Linked DNA regions of Homo sapiens: region 2 is linked to region 1. Evidence: fine-mapped expression QTL. Tissue or cell type: whole blood. Region 1 holds a variant in brackets; the other region holds the start of a gene. All regions are shown on one strand. Distances are from middle to middle.

Region 1 (10,892 bases):
TTAATAGAGATGGGGTTTTACCACGTTGGCCAGCCTGGTCTCAAACTCCTGACCTCAGGTGATCCGCCCGCCTCGGCCTCCCAAAATGCTGACATTACAGGTGTGAGCCACCATGCCCGGCCTCTTCATGCCCTTTTCATTGGATAGAAATTTGAGCTTCTTGAGACCATCAGCAGTATGGATTTGGCCAGGCATGGTGGCCCACACCTGTAGTCCCAGCTGCTTGAGAGGCTGATGCAGAAGGATCACTTGAGGCCAGGAGTCTGAATTCAGCCTAGGCAACATAATGAGACTCTGACTCTAAAAAATTAAATTAAAAACAAAAACACAGTATGGACTCACAAAATGGAAGTACCAGTGCTAAGTAGACTTAATAGGACCGTCTTGTTCATTCTTTTAGGCCATACTGCCCATTAAAATACTACATTGTCTAACCATTCTCATCCATGGGTAGATTATACCCAACCTCCCTTTCCTATGATTGTTTGAGGGGTTTTTGCTTTTGAGATGGGGGATCTTGCTCTGTCACCCAGCTGAAGTGCAGTGGCGCAATTATGGCTCACCAGAGCCTCGAACTGCTAGACTCAAGTGATTTCCCCCATGTCAGCTTCCCTAGTAACCAGCACTACAGGCGTGTGCCACCACACCTGGATAATTTTTTAATTTTTTTTGTAAAGATGAGGTCTCACTTTGCTGCCTGTGTTGGTCTCAAACTCCTGGCATCAAGCAATCCTCTAGCCTCAGTCTCCCAGAGTGTCAGATTACAGGCGTGGGCCACTGACCCAGCCCTAGGATCTTTTATTTTCTGCTTTCTGACTATAGCTATACCTAAAAACCCTTTGCCTCCTAATAAGCTGGGTAGTAAATAGGTTTCATCTTCCTAAGGATCACCTTCAGTCAGTTGACGAATTTTTTTGTTTTGTTTTGTTTTGTTTTTGTTTTTGTTTTGTTTTGAGATGGAGTCTCACTCTGTAGCCCAGGCTGGAGTGCAGTGGCATGATCTCTGCTCACTGCAAGCTCCGCCTCCTGGGTTCACGCCGTTCTCCTGCCTCAGCCTCCTGAGTGGCTGGGACTACAGGCACCCGCCACCACACATGGCTAATTTTTTGTATTTTTAGTAGAGATGGGGTTTCACCATGTTAGCCAGGATGGTCTCGATCTCCTGACCTCGTGATCCACCCACCTCGACCTTCCAAAGTGCTAGGATTACAGGCGTGAGCCACCGCACCTGGCCCAGTTGATGAATTTATACAGAGCTCAATTGTAGATTCTAAGGTCACATGTAGGCCTAAGGAATAGCAAGTCATTTTTGAGACAGGGTCTCACTCCCTCACCAAGGCTGGAGCATAGCAGTGCAATCCTGGCTCATTGTAGCCTCGAGCTCCCAAACTCAGGTGATCCTCCCACGTCAGCCACTTGAGTAGCAGGGATAACAAGTGTGCACCACCATACCCAGCTAATTTTTTGTAGTTTTTTATAGAGATGGGGTTTCACCATGTTGTCTAAGCTGGTCTCGAACTCCTGGCTCAAATGATCCTCCCACCTCAGCCTCCTGAATAGCTGGGACTACAAGTGCATGCAGGCTACCACACCTGGCTTAAATTTCCTTTCTTTCTTTTTTTTTTTTTTAATTTTGAGACAAGGTCTTGCAGTGTCACCCAGGATGGAGGCTGAAGTGCAGTGGTGTGATCACAGCTCACTTCACTGCAGCCTTGACCTCCTGGGCTCAAGTTCAAACGATCCTCCCACCTCAGCCTACCAAGTAGCTGGGACTGTAGGTGTGCACCACGACACTCAGCTAATCTTTTTTGGTTTTTTGTAAAGACAGGGTCCCACTATGTTGCCCAGGCTGGTTCTTGAACTCCTGGGCTCAAGCGGTCCTTCCACCTCAGCCTCCCAAAGTGCTGGGATTATAGGCATGAACCATCACACCCAACCCTTAAATTTGTTAAGTTTATTAATTATCTTGCTGTCCCACAAAAGTTCTCTGTGTTCCTACTTCATCGACCCTGTGAAAAGCAGCCCTGTGCTTCATACTCTAGATGGCATCTCTCAGCCTCTGCCCCATACATCTTTTACTTGGCTATCATGTGGATATAAATTAAATCCTGTGAATACGTAACATCTCATAGGATGTAGAATGCAGAAATGCAGTAAAGACCATACTTCTGTGCCTCTTGGCTATTGTTGCTGTCAAAAAAGGTCATGGAACTACATCAGTTTTCCAGCATCCGTTGTCCAGCTTCATAGGTTGAGAGAGAAGTTGTTACAGTCAAAGCATCTTGCTTCCAGCAGAGCTGTGAAGGAGCCTCAGAGACTGTAGGTCACCTATTGGAACATGTATGCATTATTCCTGGAGATGTTTCTGGAGGCCCAACCTAGTATCATACTTTCAGCCTCTCTAGTGATTTTCTTTTTCTTTTCTTTTCTTTTCTTTTTTTTTTTTGAGATGGAGTCTTACTCTGTCGCCCAGGCTCAAGTGTAGTGGCACGATCTTGGCTCACTGCAACCTCCACCTCCTGGGTTCAAGTGATTCTTGTGCCTCAGCCTCCCAAGTAGCTGGGATTATAGGCACATAGCACCATGCCTGCCTAATTTTTTTATTTTTGGTGGAGACGGGGGTTTGCCATGTTGGCGAGGCTGGTCTCAAACTCCTGGCCTCAAGCAATCTACCTGCCTTGGCCTTCCCAAGTGTTGGGATTACAGGCTGAGCCACCACGCCCTGCCTCTCCAGTGAATGAATGAAAAGCACCTCATTTTCCATATCAAATCTTTTGCACCCTGGAGAGATAGTTGGTAGTTGGATTAAAGTTGTGTGCAGATATCATGGCAAAAAGGATGTGTAGTCAGGCTGCCATCTCAGAATTTTGACAATTTTTTTTTTTTTTTGAGACAGAGTTTTACTCCTGTTGCCCAGGCTGGAGTGCAATGGCGCAATCTTGGCTGACTGCAGCCTCCGCCTCCCGGGTTCAAGCAGTTCTCCTGTCTCAGCCTCCCGAGTAACTGGAATTACAAGTGCCTTACCATCACACCCGGCTAATTGACTTTTTTTTTTTTTTTTTTTTTTGAGACAGTTTCACTGTGTCGCGCAGGCTGGAGTGCAGTGGCATGATCTCGGCTCACTGCAACCTCCGCCTCCTGGGTTCAATCGATTCTCCTGCCTCAGCCTCCCAAGTAGCTGGGACACAGGCACCTGCCACCATGCCCTGGGGCTAAACTTTTTTGTATTTTTAGTAGAGACAGGGTTTCACTATGTTGGCCAGGCTGGTCTTGAACTCCTGGCCTCGTGATCCGCCCGCCTCTGCCTCCCAAAGTGCTGGTATTACAGGCGTGAGCTACCGCACCCGGCCTAATTGACAATTTTATCCAAGTTTTTTTTTTTTTTCCCTCTGTGGGCCTTAGCTTCCTCCAACCTCATAAACCTCTCAGTTTTTGTGGGCCAGGAATTTGGGAAAGGCTTGGCTGGATAGTTCTGATTCAGGGTCTCTTATGCAGTTGCAGTCAGATGGTGGCTCAAGTTGAAACAGCAGGGAAATGGAGCATCTGGGAGCTAGAGCTGAAACAACAGCGGGGTGGAGCCTCTGGGGGCTGGCCAGACATCTCTCTTTTCATGTGGTGTCAGGAACTCTCCATGTGGTCTTGATGCATGAAATAGTCTGGGGTTTCTCACAGCTTGGTGGCCTCAGAGCAGTCAGACTGCTTACATGGTGGGCAAAGGCTTTAAAAGCAAACATTCCCAATTTGGTTCCCTTTTATAATTTCTACTTTAATGTGTTTATGTTGCTTAGTGGTCAGATTAACTAGGGATTCAACAAGATCTTGTTCTAAACACCTGGAGCCTATAAGCCCTTGATTTTGTATTGTTGGATCTGTGTGTTGGTAGGGAAGCATAATCAAAGTTCAAGTCATTTTGAGATCTACCCTTCCCACGAGGTCCTTTTGCATCTCTTTTGTGTGTGTACGCAGCCTCAGGGTGGCCATGAGTATGTGGCTAACTTGGGCCCTCTCAGGTCTCCGCTGTCACACAGTCTCAGCCAGGAACACACTTGCCCCAACCATGAGCACACCTCCGGCCAGTGAAGCCTTTCACTCTTCCTGCTTACTGCCTTGGAGATCATCATTTCCATCAACAATATTGCTACATGTAAAGGAAATCAAGTGATTTCCTTCCTTCTGTATGGAAGCTATTTGTTTTCATGGCTAGCACCTTCTTGCCAGAGTTTCTACACCGATTGCAGGAAGGGCTGAGAGCAGCCTCACCTGAGCCTGGGAAATTGAGGCTACAGTGAGCTGACATTATGCCACTGCACTCCAGTGTGGGCACTGCAGCCTGGGAAACCCTGAGGTTTTGTTTGTTTGTTTGTTTTTCCCCATCTGGGGAAAAAAAAAAGCCGCTGATTCCTACTGTTCTTACCTGAAGTTCAGCAGTTTTGCAAGCACAAAATTGCTCTCGGATTGTTAAGTCCCTTTGGTTAACTTCCAGAGTGCTGAAGTGGTTGGTTTTGTCAGTTTTGTCCGGTTTTGTCAGTTTTGTCCTGTTTTATTGTTGCTTCTGCAGGAGATCTCCTCACTCTGCCTTGGCCAGAAGTTCCACCCTGTACTCACTTTGTTTTATATTCAACTTCGCTTCCTCTGCCTGACTTCAAAATTGGGAGGGTCCCAAGGCTCAGTCTCTGAACCTCTTTCCTTCTTCATCTACGCTAGGCAATCTCTTCCAGCCCCACAGTGTTCAATATGATTGATATACCAATGATTCCCCATTTATATCTCCAGCTCTGACCTCCCCCTTGAGCTTCAAGTGACTGACAGATCTGAATCTCCAACTCATCTCCACCTATATATCTGATAGACTACTCACACTCACATAACGAAAAGTCTTTAATTTTTCCTCCAAGGCTATCTTCCCCTAGTTCTAATCTATTCACTTGTTCAAGTTCAAAACCTAGGAGTTATCCTTGACTCCTTTCCTTCCTTCACTCCCACCCCCACATCCAGTCTAAGAAATCAGATGTCAAACCTATTGCCGGAACATAATTCCAAATTCATTCACTTTTCTCCATCTCCACTGACAACCTGCCTAGTCCAAGCTTCCATCATCTATTCTCTGAAGACTACAGCAGCCTTCTCCTTGTTCTTTCTGCTTCCATTCTTGTCCCCATACAGTCTGTTGACAACAACTGTCAGAGTAATCTTTTCAAGGGCAAACCAGATCTTGTCACCTCTCATTACACTAACAATAAAATCCGTAGTTCATACTGTGGCTTATGGAGCCTTATATTCATTCAACATCATCTACTAGGCCTCATGCTGTCTCTCCAACTTAATTTCCTACCATTCTTCTCTCATTCACCATATTCCAGGCATAGTGGGCTTCTCTCCATTCTTTGAACATGGAATATGCCAAACTCATCCCTGCCTCACAGACTTAATACTGTTTCAGGTTGGAACACTCTTTTCCTGTAAGCCTTGTGGCTGACACTTCCCCATGATGATTTTTTTTTTTTTTTTTAAATTTTCAGAGTCAAAGTCTTTCTCTGTTGCCTAGGCTGGAGTGCAGTGGCACATTCACGGCTCACTGAAGCTTCAAACTTCTAGGCTCAAGGGATTCTCCCACCTCAGCCTCCTGAATAGCTAAGACTACAGGCATGCGCCACCATGCCCAACTACGTTTTTTTTTTTTGT[G/T]TGTGTGTGTTTTTTAATTTTTGTAGAGATGTGGCTCTCCCTGTGTTGCCCAGGACAGTCTGAAACTTCTGGGCTGAAGCAATCCTCTTGCCTCAGCCTGTTGAGTTTCTGGGATTATAGGTGTGAGCCACCACAACCGGCCCTGTGATGGTCTTTACTAACTCTCCTGCCCCGTCATTCTCTACCCCGTACTCTGCTTGTTTTCATAGCATTTCTAATTCTCTGTCATTGTCTTGCTTATTTTTTACTTTATACCCCATCTTCTTTGTTGGTATGGCCCCCAGCACTAAGTGCAGTGTTGACACAAAGCACGTATTATAAATATATTTGTGTGGACTATGTGAATGTACTCTCTAAGGCCAGAGAGTGCATTCCAGCAGAGAGGTACATTTATTTAGCAGGTGCTTACCTGCCCTTGCTGTGGGTTTGGGAGTCTGATTCTGAATATGCTTGAAACCTCATCTCTTGAACAAAACAAAATCCACAATCTCCAGGTGAGGAAGTGATGACTGAACTCTGACCCCTGGGTATTACCTTCCCCATGTGGGTTTCTTATTGTGAGAAGCCTCTGACCCTCTTTTTTTTCTTCTTTTTTCTTCTTCTTCTTGTGTGTGTGTGTGTGTGTGTGTGTGTGTGTGTGTGTGTCCGAGTTTTGCTGTTGCTCAGGCTGGAGTGCAATGGCACAATCTCGGCTCACTGCAACCTCTGCCTCCCAGGTTCAAGTGATTGTCCTGCCTCTGTCTCCCAAGTAGCAGGGATTACAGGCATGCTTCACCACACCCGGCTAGTTTTGTATTTTTAGTAGAGATGGGGTTTTACCATGTTGGCCAGGCTGGTCTCAAACTCCTGACCTCAGATGATCCACCCACCTTGGCCTCCCAAAGTGCTAAGATTACAGGCATTACCAATCGTGCCTGGCCACCTCTGACCCTCTTTTAAAAGTTCTGGGCCAATTTTGTTTATAGAGTCATTTCTCTTGGTTTTTCAGAGCATAGCTAAGACAGGCAAGGTCTTTCACAAAAATTTACCATTTAAAAGAAAAATGCAGAAATAAAAAGAGATCATTAGGGGCAGAAATACAGCCCTTCTGCCTAAAAGGGCTGACATAGGTAAGCTTTAGATTTTGTGGATTAAGGAGAGACATCTTAAAAGCTCCCCACCAAGAACCTCTTCCAGGGCATCGACTTTTTTTTTTTTAAGACAGGGGCTTGCTCTGTTATCCAGGCTGGAGTACAGTGGCACTAACATGGCTTGCCATAGCCTTGACCTCCTGAGCTCAAGCAATCCTTCTGTCTCTGTCTCAGCCTTAGCCTCCCATGAAGCTGGAACCACAGGCATGTGCCACCACCCCCGGCTAGTTTTTGGTTTGTTGGTGTGTTTGTTTCTATGTAGAGACAGAGTCTCACCATCTTGCCCAGGCTGGTCTCAAACTCCTGGGCTCAACCCATCCTCCCACCTCAGCCTCCCAAAATGCTGGGATTACAGGTGTGAGCCACTGTGCCTAGCCTTGACCACTTTTTGGCTGAGACCAGGAGATTAAAAATGTGGGCCTGCCCTCCTCTCCCAGTTTTAGACTCTGCCTCTGCCTCTGCCTCACATTGCCAGCGCCATGATAGAACTCATGCCTTGGCCGGGCGCGGTGGCTCACGCCTGTAATCCCAGCACTTTGGAAGGCCAAGGTGGGTGGATCACGAGGTCAGGAGATCGAGACCATCCTGGCTAACACGATGAAACCCCGTCTCTACTAAAAATACAAAAAAATTAGTTGGGCGTGGTGGTGGGTGCCTGTAATCCCAACTACTCGGGAGGCTGAGGCAGGAGAATGGTGTGAACTTGGGAGGCGGAGCTTGCAGTGAGCCGACATCATGCCACTGCACTCCAGCCTGGGTGACAGAGCGAGACTCCCTCTCAAAAAAAAAAAAAACAAACAAAAATGAACTTATGCCTTGGGAGAGATTTTACCTCCTCTTCTCTTCTCAAAAAGGTAAGACTGTTCTCCAGGCACAATAATTTAAGCACAGGTTAATACCATGTTTCATATAGTGTGGCACTTATATAATACGTTATGTGATTTTATTTTATTTATTTATTTAGAGACAGAGTCTAGCTCTGTCACCCAAGTTGGAGTTAGTGGCACAACCTCAGCTCACTACAACCTCTGCCTCCTGGGTTCAAACAATTCTCCTGCCTCAGCCTCCCGAGTAGCTGGGATTATAGGTGCCTGCCACCACACCTGGCTAATTTTTGTATTTTTAGTAGAGACAGGGTTTCACCATGTTGGCCAGGCTGGTCTCGAACTCCTGATCTCAGGTGATCTGCCCACCTCGGCCTCCCAAAGTGCTAGGATTACAGGCGTGAGCCACCACGCCCCACCCTGTTATGTGATTTTAAATGTTTCAAAGTCAGATCAAGAACAATGAGAAAAGTATTCCTTTTTCGAGTCTTTCAGTCCTCCTGATTCTATCTGGGAAGAAGTTTCAGTTGGGTGCTACCATATCTTAAAACCTCTCAGCACAGTTGCTGTTCTCTTCTTCCTGGGGAATGCTCCAAGCCTCATTTTTATCATATTTATTTTTATTGGTATCTGCTTAAGTTTATGATCTAAAGATTCCTTTTTAAAAGAAGTTCCTAAGTAAAGAAAGTTGGCATACATAAAATTATAAAATAAGTAATAGTGTAGGTGGTGTGAGAACACAGCATGAGTCACGGTGGCAGTAGGAAAGGCTGGCTGAGGTCTGCCAGTGTCCTAGTATGGCATCCCATCATTCAGTGCCTGTGTTTGAGGCAGGGTTCAAAGGCAGTGCTGTTGAGGTAGTGTTTGTCAACTCAATGATTTCTTGTTTTCCCCTCTATAGTGGAGCACATGATCCAGAAGAACCAATGTCTCTTCACCAACACCCAGTGTAAGGTTTGCTGCGCCTTGCTTATTTCTGAGTCCCAGAAGCTGGCACATTACCAGGTATGCCATCATACTTTTAGAACTGCGTTTCTTTTCAGACCTGGTGCCAAACCACTAATTCTCTCTGGCTTGCATGGTGAAGTGTAATTGCTGCTTAGCCACCCAGATGTTGCCTCCATGCATGTTGGCTTGTGACTTGAAGATTGACTTAATCTCCTTGAGTCTCATCTCCCCCATCCAAATCAGGATCATTATATGTGTATCTTCCCTTGCAGCTTGGCATAGCATAAAGTATGAGCTTTGGCTTTAAATAGATCTGACTTTAAATCAAAACTCTGCTACTCATCTTGAGCAAGAAACTTCATCATTTTTAGATGTAGTTTCCTCATCCATAAAATAGAAATGGTCATAATTTTCTCATAGATTGTGAAGATTAAATTTGGTAGCTGTAAAATGCCTTGCACAGAGCAGGAACTCAAACTTCCCTCACCTCCTCCTCAAAACTTTTTGTGAGGATGAATCAGATGAAAATCTCATAAGTGTTTTTGAGTGCCTTAAGTATGAAGTAGCATTTGGCTATCTTTGATCTTTCTCCTGGGTTTTTGCAGAGCAAAAAACATGCCAACAAAGTGAAGAGATACCTAGCAATCCATGGAATGGAGACATTAAAGGGGGAAACGAAGAAGCTAGACTCAGATCAGGTAATACAGCTGCCATATTGAGCCCACTTGCTTCATGATGAAGCCAGCCAGCAGGTTGGTGTGGTGAACAAGTCAGACTGTCTTGGCTTCAAATCCTGGCCCTGTTGTGTGACTCGGGCAAGTCTATTACTTCACAAAGCCTTGATTTCTTCCTCTATAAAAATGAGGATGGTAATATCAACTACCTTTCAGGATTTTTTAGAACTAAAATTGAGGGCAGATTTATAAAAAGCACCCAATTCAGAGCCTGGCACATAGTAGGGACTCAGTAATGGAGCTGGTATTACATATTACCGCCTAGTGGTTTGTTAGAGCAAGACAAGAGAAAATGGAAAGAAGCCAGGCTGCTTGCTTTCTTGAGGGCCAAGGAAAAGAACTAAGTTCAGCACTTGAATGTTTTGCATAAATAAGCAGAAGGAACACCTTTCCAAATGTCTGCTGTGATTGAGAGGTGATCACATGTGCTTTTTGGCTCAGAAATAATATGAGCATTATGCTGAAGCAACCCCCAATCCCTCAGGAGTACCATCTCATCATGGGAAGAGAAGTTAAGCAGACTAGGGCTCAAAGCTGGCTGTGTGTCTTACTGATCGGGTGAGTTTGGCCAAGTCACTTAACCTCTGTGAACTTCCCCCATAAAGTAGAGATAATGCCTACTTCTTAAGGGTATTGTGAGGTAAAATTTCAATTCCTAGTAGATGCTCAATAAATAAGAGTTTACTCTATAGACTGCTACCTCCTATTATAGTAGCCACAGGTCAGGAAGGTCCTTGTTTATCTCTTCTCAAAATTTACTGGACTCATCCCCTGGTTTCCCTTATTATTTATTTATTTATCCCTGGTTTCCCTCCTTTCTATTTCTCTATCTGTCTATTTGTGAGACAGGACCTGGCTCTGTTACCCAGGCTGGAGTGCAGTGGTGCAGTCACGGCTCACTGCAGCCTCAACCTCCCAAGCTCAAGTGATCCTCCCACTTCAACCTCCCAAGTAGCTAGGACTACAGGCACACACCACCACGCCTGGCTAACTGGAGTGCAGTGGCACGATCTCAGCTCACTGCAACCTCCACCTCCTGGGTTCAGGCGATTCCCCTGCCTCAGCCTCTGAAGTAGCTGGGACTACAGGCACGCGCCACCACACCCAGCTAATTTTTGTATTTTTAGTAGAGATAGGGTTTCACCAGGTTGGCCAGGCTGGTCTCAAACCTCTGATCTCAAGTGATCTGCCTGCCTCAGCCTCCCAAAGTGCTGGGATTACAAGTGTGAGCCACTGCGCCCAGCCGCCTGGCTGATTTTTTAAAAAATTTTTCGTAGAGACAGGGTCTCGCTTTGTTGCCCAGGCTGGTCTCAAATTCCTGGTCTCAAGTGATCCTCCCACCTCAGGCTCCCAAAGTACCAGGATTACAGGTATGAGCCACCACACCTGGCCCTTTTCTCACAATTTATAATTCAGAAAGGCAAGATAAACTCTATGACCCTGGGCAAGTTATTTTACATATTTGCACCCTATTCAGAGATCAGGCTTTCTGAGAGAGATGCTGGGATCCCTTTATGTAGTCTTGAAATACATGGTTTCCTAGCCTAATCATAATCAACAAGTAGAACGCAATG
Region 2 (9,852 bases), 49 kb after region 1:
CTGCACAAGAGCCCCAGTGTTCCCTGGGCCCGGCTGCCATCCAAGAGCAACATCGTTGGCACCAGGCAACGTCTGCCCTCTACCCCCCGATGACTCTGCCCCCAGGCAGGTGGGGGGTAGGACCTGGCCTCAGGAGACCCTCCTGGCCCAGCCCAGCATTCCAGAGGCACAGAGTCTGCAAACCCCTGCCTGGGCCTGGTGTCTCCTCAGGACTGCTGGCTAAAAGGTCAAGGAGTGCAGTGCTCAGTCCCAGCCCCCACACCTCCCTCCCCAACACACTCACCTTCAGGTGAATCTGCACCTTCCCGGGCCACAGTTAAGGATGGAGACAGAAAGCATCTGATGCAGTAGCATCAATGATCCCACTCTGGAGAGTTATCCCGAGCTCTCCATCTTTGCCCCAGAAGACAGGGGTTCGAGTTCTGCAATTCACTTGCTAGATGACCTCAAATAAGTAATTCCATCTCCCTGAGCTTGTTTCTTCACCTACAAATCAGAGCTAAGGATTCCTATGCCATTTGGCTTGGTGGAAGAATTAAAGGATATAACCCATGTACAACACCCAGCATGATGCCTGGCATGTAACGGGAGCTGAAGAGTCACGAGCTCAGGAACAGGAACACGTTCATTTCCCCCAACACTCCTAGGAAGAAAGAAGCTGGAGCAGCCGGGAGCCGTTGCTCACGCCTGTAATGCCAGCACTTTGGGAGGCCGAGACGGGTGGATCACCTGAGGTCAGGAGATCGAGACCAGCCTGGCCAACATGGTGAAACCCCGTCTCTACAAAAATACAAAAATTAGCTGGGTGTGGTGGCAGGCGCCTGTAGTCCCGGCTACTAGGAAGGCTGAGGCAGGAGAGGCAGGAGAATTGCTTGAGCCTGGGAGGCGGAGGTTGCAGTGAGCCAAGATCACGCCACTGCACTCCAGCCTGGGCAATAGAGCGAGGCTCCATCTCCACAAAAAAAAAAAAAAAAAAAGGAAGAAGAGGAAGCTGGAGCATGACGGCTTTCTGGGTGGGGAAACTGAGGCAGAGGCAGGTTAACAGCAGGATCTTAGGGTGACAGGCTCTTGCCTCTGCTAAGCGAGAGAGAGAGAGAGAGAGAGTGTGTGTGTGTGTGTGTGTGTGTGTCTGAATGTATTTTTTTTTTTTTTTGAGACAGGGTCTTGCTCTGTTTCCCAGGCTAGAGTGCAGTGCGTGATCTTGGTTCAATGCAACATCTGCCTCCCAGGTTCAAGTGATTCTCCTGCCTCAGCCACCCCAGTAGCTGGGATTACAAGCGTGTGCCACCATGCCTGGCCAATTTTTGTATTTTTAGTAGAGATGGGGTTTTACCATGTTGGCCAGGGTGGTCTCGAACTCCTGACCTCAAGTGATCCGCCCACCTCAGACTCCCAAAGTGCTGGGATTACAGGAGTGAGCCACTGTGCCCAGTCGTGTCTGAATGTCTTTGAGAAAGAGACTGCAAATGTGACTGGTGAAAGATTGCGTGTCAGCAAGAGAGTGAGACAGTGTGAAAGGCTTAGGTGCTCTCCCTGACTGGCTCAGCTTATCTCCCAGGCTGTAACTGATTACTTATCTGTCTGTCCCCACTACAATGTCAGCAGCCCCTTGAAGGGTAGAAGTAGGGTCCAGGCCAGGTGAGGTGGCTCACATCTGTAATCCCAGCATTTGAGGAGGCTGACATGGGCAGATAACTTGAGGTCAGGAGTTTGAGACTAGCCTGGTCAATATGGTGAAACCTTGTCTCTACTAAAAATATAAAAATTAGCCAGGTGTAGTAGTGCACATTTGTAATCCCAGCTACTCAGGAGCCTGAGGCAGGAGAATCACTTGAACCCAGGAGGCAGAGCTTGCAGTGAACTAAGATCACACCACTGCACTCCAGCCTGGACAACAGAGCAAGACACTGTCTCCCAAAGAAAAGAAAAGAAAAAGAGTCCAATTCGGGGCTTTATCCCCAGGATTTAAAACAGTGGATGCCACATAATGAACCTTCAATAAATAATCATTCAGATGAATGAGTGAATGAGTGAATGACTTTGTGAGGGAGCATCAGCCTCTGTGGAGGGTCAGTGTGAAAGGTTATGAGTGCGGGGAGAGGAGGCAGACAAGGGATATGGGGAACATATCCTAGGGACATCAGAGGGTTGCAAATCTGAGGGATTTGCGCATCTCAGGAGACAAGGAGGTTGCAAGACCTGAGCTATGAAAACTTTTAGTTTGTCTTTGGCTCTGGTAAACTCAGGAAATGCCCGGGAAGGTGAATGAAAGCCATGTGGGGTCCAGCTCCAGCTGGCGGCTCACCCTGTCTCCCCCCACAACCACATTCACAAGGGGAGCCAGCAGAGGGCCAGAGGCAGGGAGCTGAACCCCTCCAGCAGTCCGGGAGGTCTGGCAAGGTACCCTCTGGGCAGGCAGCTCCCAGGGCCAGGAGCCTCATCTGTCCTGGGAGCTCCAGCAAGGCAGGACTCTAGAGAAGGGAACCAGGACAAATTGTTTTTAAAAGATAACCAATTAAAAAAAAATTTATAATATACATATATATGTGTGGGTGTGTCTGTGTGTATGTATATACACACAGACACACAGACACACACAGACACACACACACACACACACACACACATATATATATATATATATATTTTTTTTTTTTTTTGGAGACAAAGTCTCACTCTGTCACCCAGTCTGGAGTGCAATGGCACGATCTCGGCTCACTGCAACCTCCACCTCCCGGGTTCAAGCAATTCTCTGCCTCAGCCTCCCTAGTAGCTGAGATTACAGGCACATGCCACCATGCCTGGCTAATTTTTTTGTATTTTTAGTAGAGCTGGGGTTTCACCATCTTGCCAGGTTGGTCTTGAACTCCTGACCTCGTGATCCACCCACCTAAGCCTCCCAAAGTGCTGAGATTACAGGCGTGAGCCACCGTGCCCAGCCTAATATATATTTTTAATAGAGACGAGATCTCACTATGTTGCCCAGGCTGGCCTCGAACTCCTGAGTTCAAGCGATCCTCCCGATTCAGCCTCCCACAGTGCTGGGATTATAGGCATGAGCCACCATGCCTGGCCTCAATTATTTTCTGATTTATCTTTGGGAGGAGACCATTCTTTCGCTTAAGAAGAAAAAGAAAAAAACAATTTTAAGTCTCTTTAATGGGCCTTACAGTTATGCAAAGATATGCCACTATCCCTTTGGGAGTGAGGGTGGAAAGAACTAGACTTGCCTGCGTAACAATGAGAAAGGAAGTTGCTTCTTAAGACAGGGTCTACACTAGCTAGAGGGGACAACCAGGACCTGAGCCTCAGACAGGGTCTCGCTCCATAGCCTGTTGCCCAGGCTACAGTGCAGTGGAGCGATCACGGCTCACTGCTGCCTCGACTTCCTGGGCTCAAGCAATCCTCTGGCCTCAGCCTCCCAAGTAGCTGGGACCACAGGTGCACCCAGCCCATTTCCCTTCCTCTCAAGGTGCCTTAAGAGAAGGAGAAGGCTTGAGATTCAGGTGAGGGATGGGCAGAGATCAGAGGCTGCCTGGCCTCCTGGTTTGGCCACAGTCTAGATGCTCAGGAGAGAAGTGCTTACAGGTGAGGCAAACATGAGCCAGGTGGGCACGGAGCTATCTGGGAGCACCTACTGTATGCCAGACACTTGAACTCTAATGGTGAGGTCTGAGGACACAGTTCCTCTACTGAAAAATAGAGACAGGGCAACTATGTTGCCAGGGCTGGCCTCACACTCCTGAATTCAAGCTGTCCTCCTACCTCAGTCTCCTAGTAACTAGAACTACAGGCACCCGTCATTGTGCCCGGCCATTCCACAGCTATTTACATAATTAACTGTTCAGTTACAATTCTGGCAAGCGTGCTGAAGAAATAACAGGTCCTAAATAATTACAGCTAGTATTACAAAGCAAGCGCTGCATGCCAGGCTTACACATACTGCTAACATGTCTACTTTTTGCAACAACCTCTTGTGGGTGAGACTATCATTTGCCTGTTTTACTGAAAGGACAGTGAAGACTGAGGCCTTGTGTGATGGTGCTGAGAGCTGGGCCTATGACGTCCAGCCCTGTAGTCTGTGCTCTGAACCACTTCACCCTGTTTCTTTCTCCATCCTCACAGTAGAGACGTCATCTAAGAGGAGCTTGCAAGTCCAGAGGGCTTCCTGAAGGAAGTGAGCTGAGAATAATATGAAATTAACCAGACCAAGGGCCATTCCAGGAAGAGAGAATGGTACGTGAAACTGCCCAGGAGTAGCAGGGTGGGAGCCAGGAGGCGTGGGTCATGGCAATCTATGTATAAAGAGCTATGGGAATCTATAGGAAAATTTAAGGGAGTGGCTGACACAGTCAGATTTGTGTTGTAAGTATCACTCCGCAGGTTGCGCAGGGAACAAATGAGGGAGCAGAAGGAAGGGGTTCTCCTATCCGCTGCACGGCACTGCGCAGAAGACAGGGGAGCCAGGCATTCCCTGAAGGGTGAAAAGCAAGGAGTAGAGCTGGGTAGTAGACTAGAATTTAGGAGCCTGGCCTGGGGCCTGGGTGGGGCGAAAGAGGCGGAGCCTGAATGGGGTGTGTATAGGGGGGTTGCGTGTAGGGGTGTGTGTATAGGCTGGGGCGGGGTCCCGGGAGTGGGCTGACTGGGTCGGGGGCGGGGCTCTCCAGGTGGGCGGGGATCTTGGCCACCCCTGGCCACACCTCTCTCCGGCTCGAGCTGGTCTAGGCGGGGCGGGCCCGAGGGGGTGTGGCAGGAGGTGGGCGGGCCCGGGTGGGGGGGGGGGGGGCGTGGAAGGAGGGGCGGGCCCGAGCAGGAGGGGGCGGGCCCGAGGGGCGGGGTGGGACAGGAGGTGGGCCGCTCGCGGCCACGCCGCCGTCGCGGGTACATTCCTCGCTCCCGGCCGAGGAGCGCTCGGGCTGTCTGCGGACCCTGCCGCGTGCAGGGGTCGCGGCCGGCTGGAGCTGGGAGTGAGGCGGCGGAGGAGCCAGGTGAGGAGGAGCCAGGTGAGCAGGACCCTGTGCTGGGCGCGGAGTCACGCAGGCTCGAGGTGAGCCGGAACCCTTGTGGGCCCGGGCTGCGCTCCCAGCCGCCAGGGGGCGAGAGGCGGCGGGGCTACGGGGACTGCCCCTCCCGGCGCAGGGGACCTGGGCGTCCGCCGGGCGGCAGGGGGTGGAGGGGGCGGTAAATCAGTAACCCGCAGTGCACACAGGGCCTTTTGTCCCGCTCCGTCCAAAGAGCACCCCGGCCGCGGAGCTGGTTACTCATTGCCCACCGAGGCGGGGGCAGGCTGGCCCTGTGCAGCTACCCTCGGGACCCATTGATTCGCACCTCCCCCCAGGCTGGCCCGGCAAGGGTGGGGGAGGACAAGCGCGCTTGTCCCTGCGGCTGTCTTCGCGCCGGCGGCAGAGATGAGGGACCTGAGGCCCCGAAAAGTTCAGTCACTTAGTGCCCGGGGGCCTCCAGCGCGAGTGCGGGAGGCTGAAGGAGAACCCAGGACTGTCTGATGCCTAAGGCAGGCCCTCCATTCCCACGTGGGGGGTGGTCGGTCAGCGGTCAGCAGCCATGGGTGACTCGACTAAGGACTCTGATATCAGGGCAGCCTGGGGTAGGAATAAACTCCCCGGGCCTCCCCACCCACTCCCAGCCCAAGCTGTGTACCCAAAGAGCTGCCCTCCCTGCCAAGCCGAGCTTGGTAGGGAGTTTTACCAAGGAGGATCCGACTGGATTCGAGAGTTGAGGTGGGCCAGAGACAGCAGTATCTGAGTCAGGTAGAGAAGAGCAATGAGGGGCACAGAGGGATGGGCAAGAGAGCACATGTGCCCAGTTTTGAAAGCCAATGGCTTCAGCGCTCCTGAAGGGGCAGACGGTGTGACCAAAGAGATAGGCAGCGGCAGAGAGGGAGCCCTAGGATGTTGAGCTGGATCCTGCTGGGCACAGGTAGCCATTAAGGGCTTGCAAGCTGGGGGGCATGACATGGCAGACTTGCAGGTTTTTTTGTTTGTTTTTTTATTTTATTTTATTTTTTTATTTTGTTTTTTTTGAGACGGAGTCTCACTCTGTCGCCCAGGCTGGAGTGCAGTGGCGCGATCTCGGCTCACTGCAAGCTCCGCCTCCCGGGTTCGCGCCATTCTCCTGCCTCAGCCTCCCGAGTAGCTGGGACTACAGGCGCCCGCCACCGCGCCCGGCTAATTTTTTGTATTTTTAGTAGAGACGGGGTTTCACCGTGTTAGCCAGGATGTTCTCGATCTCCTGACCTCGTGATCCGCCCACCTCGGCCTCCCAAAGTGCTGGGATTACAGGTGTGAACCATCGCGCCCAGCCGACTTGTAGTTTTTTAAAACTCTGCTGGAAGATGAAGGTTGAAGAGCCGAGGGAGAGGATGTTTCCAGAGGCCCATGCAAGAGATGGCCATGACCTGCCTTGAGAAGGGGCAGGGGAAGCCAGATGGACTGGAAGTGGAGTGGCAGTGACCAAGGAGGAGGAGGTGTGATAGGCTTCCCACGCAGGGTAGATCCAGAGACACCAGTGCCACCCATAGGCCCCTAGGACTGCAGTGGTCACCGATTCCTTTGTCCCAGCTGAGACTCAGTTCTGAGTGTTCTATTTTGGGGAACAGAGGCGTCCTTGGTAGCATTTGGAAGAGGATAGCCAGCTGGGGTGTGTGTACATCACAGCCTGACAGTAACAGCATCCGAACCAGAGGTGACTGGCTAAGGGCAGACCCAGGGCAACAGGTTAACCGTTCTAGGGCCGGGCACAGGGAGGAGAACATTCCAACACTCTGCGTGCCGACGCACGTTCTCTCTTTTATCCTCAAAACAGTCCTATGAGGATAGTAAGCCAGAGAGAGACAGAGACAAGGAATTACAAGTTGGTGAGAGTCAGGATTTGAACTTGGCTCTGGCAGATGGAAAATTAGGGTCTGTATTCTTTACAAAACCGTGTGTGCCTCAGATGGAGTTGGTGCATAACAAGCAGAGGTATCCAGGGTCGCGGTCCTGCTTGCCACGGAAGGGGCCGCCTTGTCAGTTGTGACCACCCAGCCCTGGAAATGTCAGTAATGCTGTAAGGAGTGGGGATCGGATCAGATGCCATCCAGATGCTGAAGTTTGACCTTGTGTCATTTTTCACTTTCTTTTTTGGCTCTTCTGCAATCAATTCATTTATTTAGCAAAAAAGAAATTATGTGTGCCGAGAGCATGCAGAAGATATGTCTCCGTTCTCTGCTTCCCTCCAAAAAAGAATCCCAAAACTGCTTTCTGTGAACGTGTGCCAGGGTCCCAGCAGGACTCAGGGAGAGCAGGAAGCCCAGCCCAGACCCCTTGCACAACCTACCGTGGGGAGGCCTTAGGCTCTGGCTACTACAGAGCTGGTTCCAGTCTGCACTGCCACAGCCTGGCCAGGGACTTGGACACATCTGCTGGCCACTTCCTGTCTCAGTTTCCTTATCTGCAAAATAAGGGAAAAGCCCCCACAAAGGTGCACGTGTAGCAGGAGCTCTTTTCCCTCCCTATTTTAGGAAGGCAGTTGGTGGGAAGTCCAGCTTGGGTCCCTGAGAGCTGTGAGAAGGAGATGCGGCTGCTGCTGGCCCTGTTGGGGGTCCTGCTGAGTGTGCCTGGGCCTCCAGTCTTGTCCCTGGAGGCCTCTGAGGAAGTGGAGCTTGGTATGGCTTCTGAGGTGGGAGAGGGTGGCAGGGGTGGGAAGAGTGGGCACCAGGAGGGGGCTGCTGGGCTGAGCAAAGCTGGAAAGGATCCTTGCCCAGGCCCTGAGAAGGTGGCGGCAGGGCAGGGCTCAACCACTGAGACTCAGTCAGTGCCTGGCTTCCAGCAAGCATTCATCTATCACTGTGTCTGCGAGAGAGGACTGGCCTTGCAGGGCGCAGGGCCCTAAGCTGGGCTGCAGAGCTGGTGGTGAGCTCCTTACCTGGGTGTGTGTGCGTGTGTGTGTGTGTTCTGTGCACTGGGTGTGTGACCTAGGAGGTCCAGGCAGCATGTGTGGTATAAGCATTATGAGGGTGATATGCCCCGGTGCAGCATGACCCTGTATGTGGCACCAACAGCATGTGCCTTGTGTGTGTGTGTGTCCGTATGTGTGTGTGTGTATGCGTGTGTGTGTGTGTGTGTGTCTTGGCCACTGTCGTGTGCACTAAATGCTGTGTGTGTGACATGCCCCAAGAGTGTGGCATTTGCCCTGGGTGTGGCATCCGCAGCATGTGGCTGTGTGGGTGTCAAGGAGTGGTGGCTCCTTCAGCATGCGTTGCAAAGTGCTTGTGCCCTGCATGTGCGGTGTGTTCTTTGTACACAGGAGGCTGCCTCAGATGGGGCTGCGGGGTCTGCTGACCTCTGCCCTCTGCCCACAGAGCCCTGCCTGGCTCCCAGCCTGGAGCAGCAAGAGCAGGAGCTGACAGTAGCCCTTGGGCAGCCTGTGCGTCTGTGCTGTGGGCGGGCTGAGCGTGGTGGCCACTGGTACAAGGAGGGCAGTCGCCTGGCACCTGCTGGCCGTGTACGGGGCTGGAGGGGCCGCCTAGAGATTGCCAGCTTCCTACCTGAGGATGCTGGCCGCTACCTCTGCCTGGCACGAGGCTCCATGATCGTCCTGCAGAATCTCACCTTGATTACAGGTGGTAAGAGACTCTAGCAGGGAGTGAAGGGATGCCTGGGGAGACAGACCTGCCCCTCTTGGACCTTAGATGCTTCCCTCTGTCCCTGATGTAGACTCCTTGACCTCCAGCAACGATGATGAGGACCCCAAGTCCCATAGGGACCCCTCGAATAGGCACAGTTACCCCCAGCAAGGTCAGTAGGTCTCCAAGGACTTGTGTCCCCGCTGCTGCTCATCTGATCACTGAGAAGAGGAGGCCTGTGTGGGAACACACGGTCATTCTAGGGGCCTTCCCCTGCCCTCCAGCACCCTACTGGACACACCCCCAGCGCATGGAGAAGAAACTGCATGCAGTACCTGCGGGGAACACCGTCAAGTTCCGCTGTCCAGCTGCAGGCAACCCCACGCCCACCATCCGCTGGCTTAAGGATGGACAGGCCTTTCATGGGGAGAACCGCATTGGAGGCATTCGGGTGAGTCTCTGGGTTCCAAGACCGTCTGCTCCCCCATTTTCATTCCTTCATCAGTCCCCTCATACCTACAAGCATACCTATAAATCAATCGAATGAGTGAAGCGATTGCGGGGCCCCGGAAGGAGCCCTGGACTGTGGACCTGGGCAGCTCTGGTTCCCCTTCTGCTACTCTCTGGCAAGTGACTTAACCTCTCAGCCTCAGCAACTCCATTTGTAAAGGGAGAAGAATCACTGACTGGTTGGTCTGCATAAGCCTTAGCATCTCATCGTCTTGATGAGACCCTGCAGGGTCGGCTCCATGCTGTCATGAGGCAACTGAGTCTCAGAGAAGGCAAGGGTTGGCTCAAAGTAGCACAGCTAGGGAGAGGGAGAGCTAAAATTCCAAAGGCTCAAACCCAAGGCTCAAGCGCCCTGGGGAGCCTACTCCTTTGTGCCATAGTCCTTGGCCTGGGCCTGATGTTCTCAGGGCCTAGAGAGCTTGACAAGAGCCCTGTGGGCAGGATGAGGATCTAGCCTCCTGGTCCTCTGGCCCCCTTGGTGGACATGGTCCGGTGGTCCCGGACACTCTCTCTGCCTGCAGCTGCGCCATCAGCACTGGAGTCTCGTGATGGAGAGCGTGGTGCCCTCGGACCGCGGCACATACACCTGCCTGGTAGAGAACGCTGTGGGCAGCATCCGCTATAACTACCTGCTAGATGTGCTGGGTGAGCGCGGGGCTGGGAACAGGGGAGGCCTGACCCATTTTGGGCTCAGTTGTGCCCTCTTGGTGGGGTCTAGT

The links. PIP is the estimated chance that this variant, and not a neighbour inherited with it, causes the effect.
Region 2: FGFR4 starts here. The variant in region 1 is fine-mapped to the expression of FGFR4 in whole blood (INTERVAL, PIP above 0.99).

Annotation. Positions count from the first base shown.
Region 1 is chr5:177,032,589-177,043,480 of GRCh38, forward strand. ZNF346 (zinc finger protein 346) reads left to right here. Exons shown (of 7, transcript NM_012279.4): 2 at 8,538-8,641; 3 at 9,190-9,282. Among named protein-coding and RNA genes, the nearest start is that of ZNF346, 15 kb to the left of the region's middle. RefSeq lists a silencer at 6,102-6,151. The variant G/T (reference allele first, on the strand shown) is at 5,683.
Region 2 is chr5:177,082,031-177,091,882 of GRCh38, forward strand. It overlaps FGFR4 (fibroblast growth factor receptor 4), which reads left to right and starts at 4,885. Exons shown (of 18, transcript NM_213647.3): 1 at 4,885-5,047; 2 at 7,520-7,663; 3 at 8,360-8,623; 4 at 8,715-8,795; 5 at 8,908-9,074; 6 at 9,655-9,778. The coding sequence starts at 7,573. RefSeq lists silencers at 4,496-4,545, 4,796-5,255, a promoter at 4,766-4,985 and an enhancer at 4,951-5,401.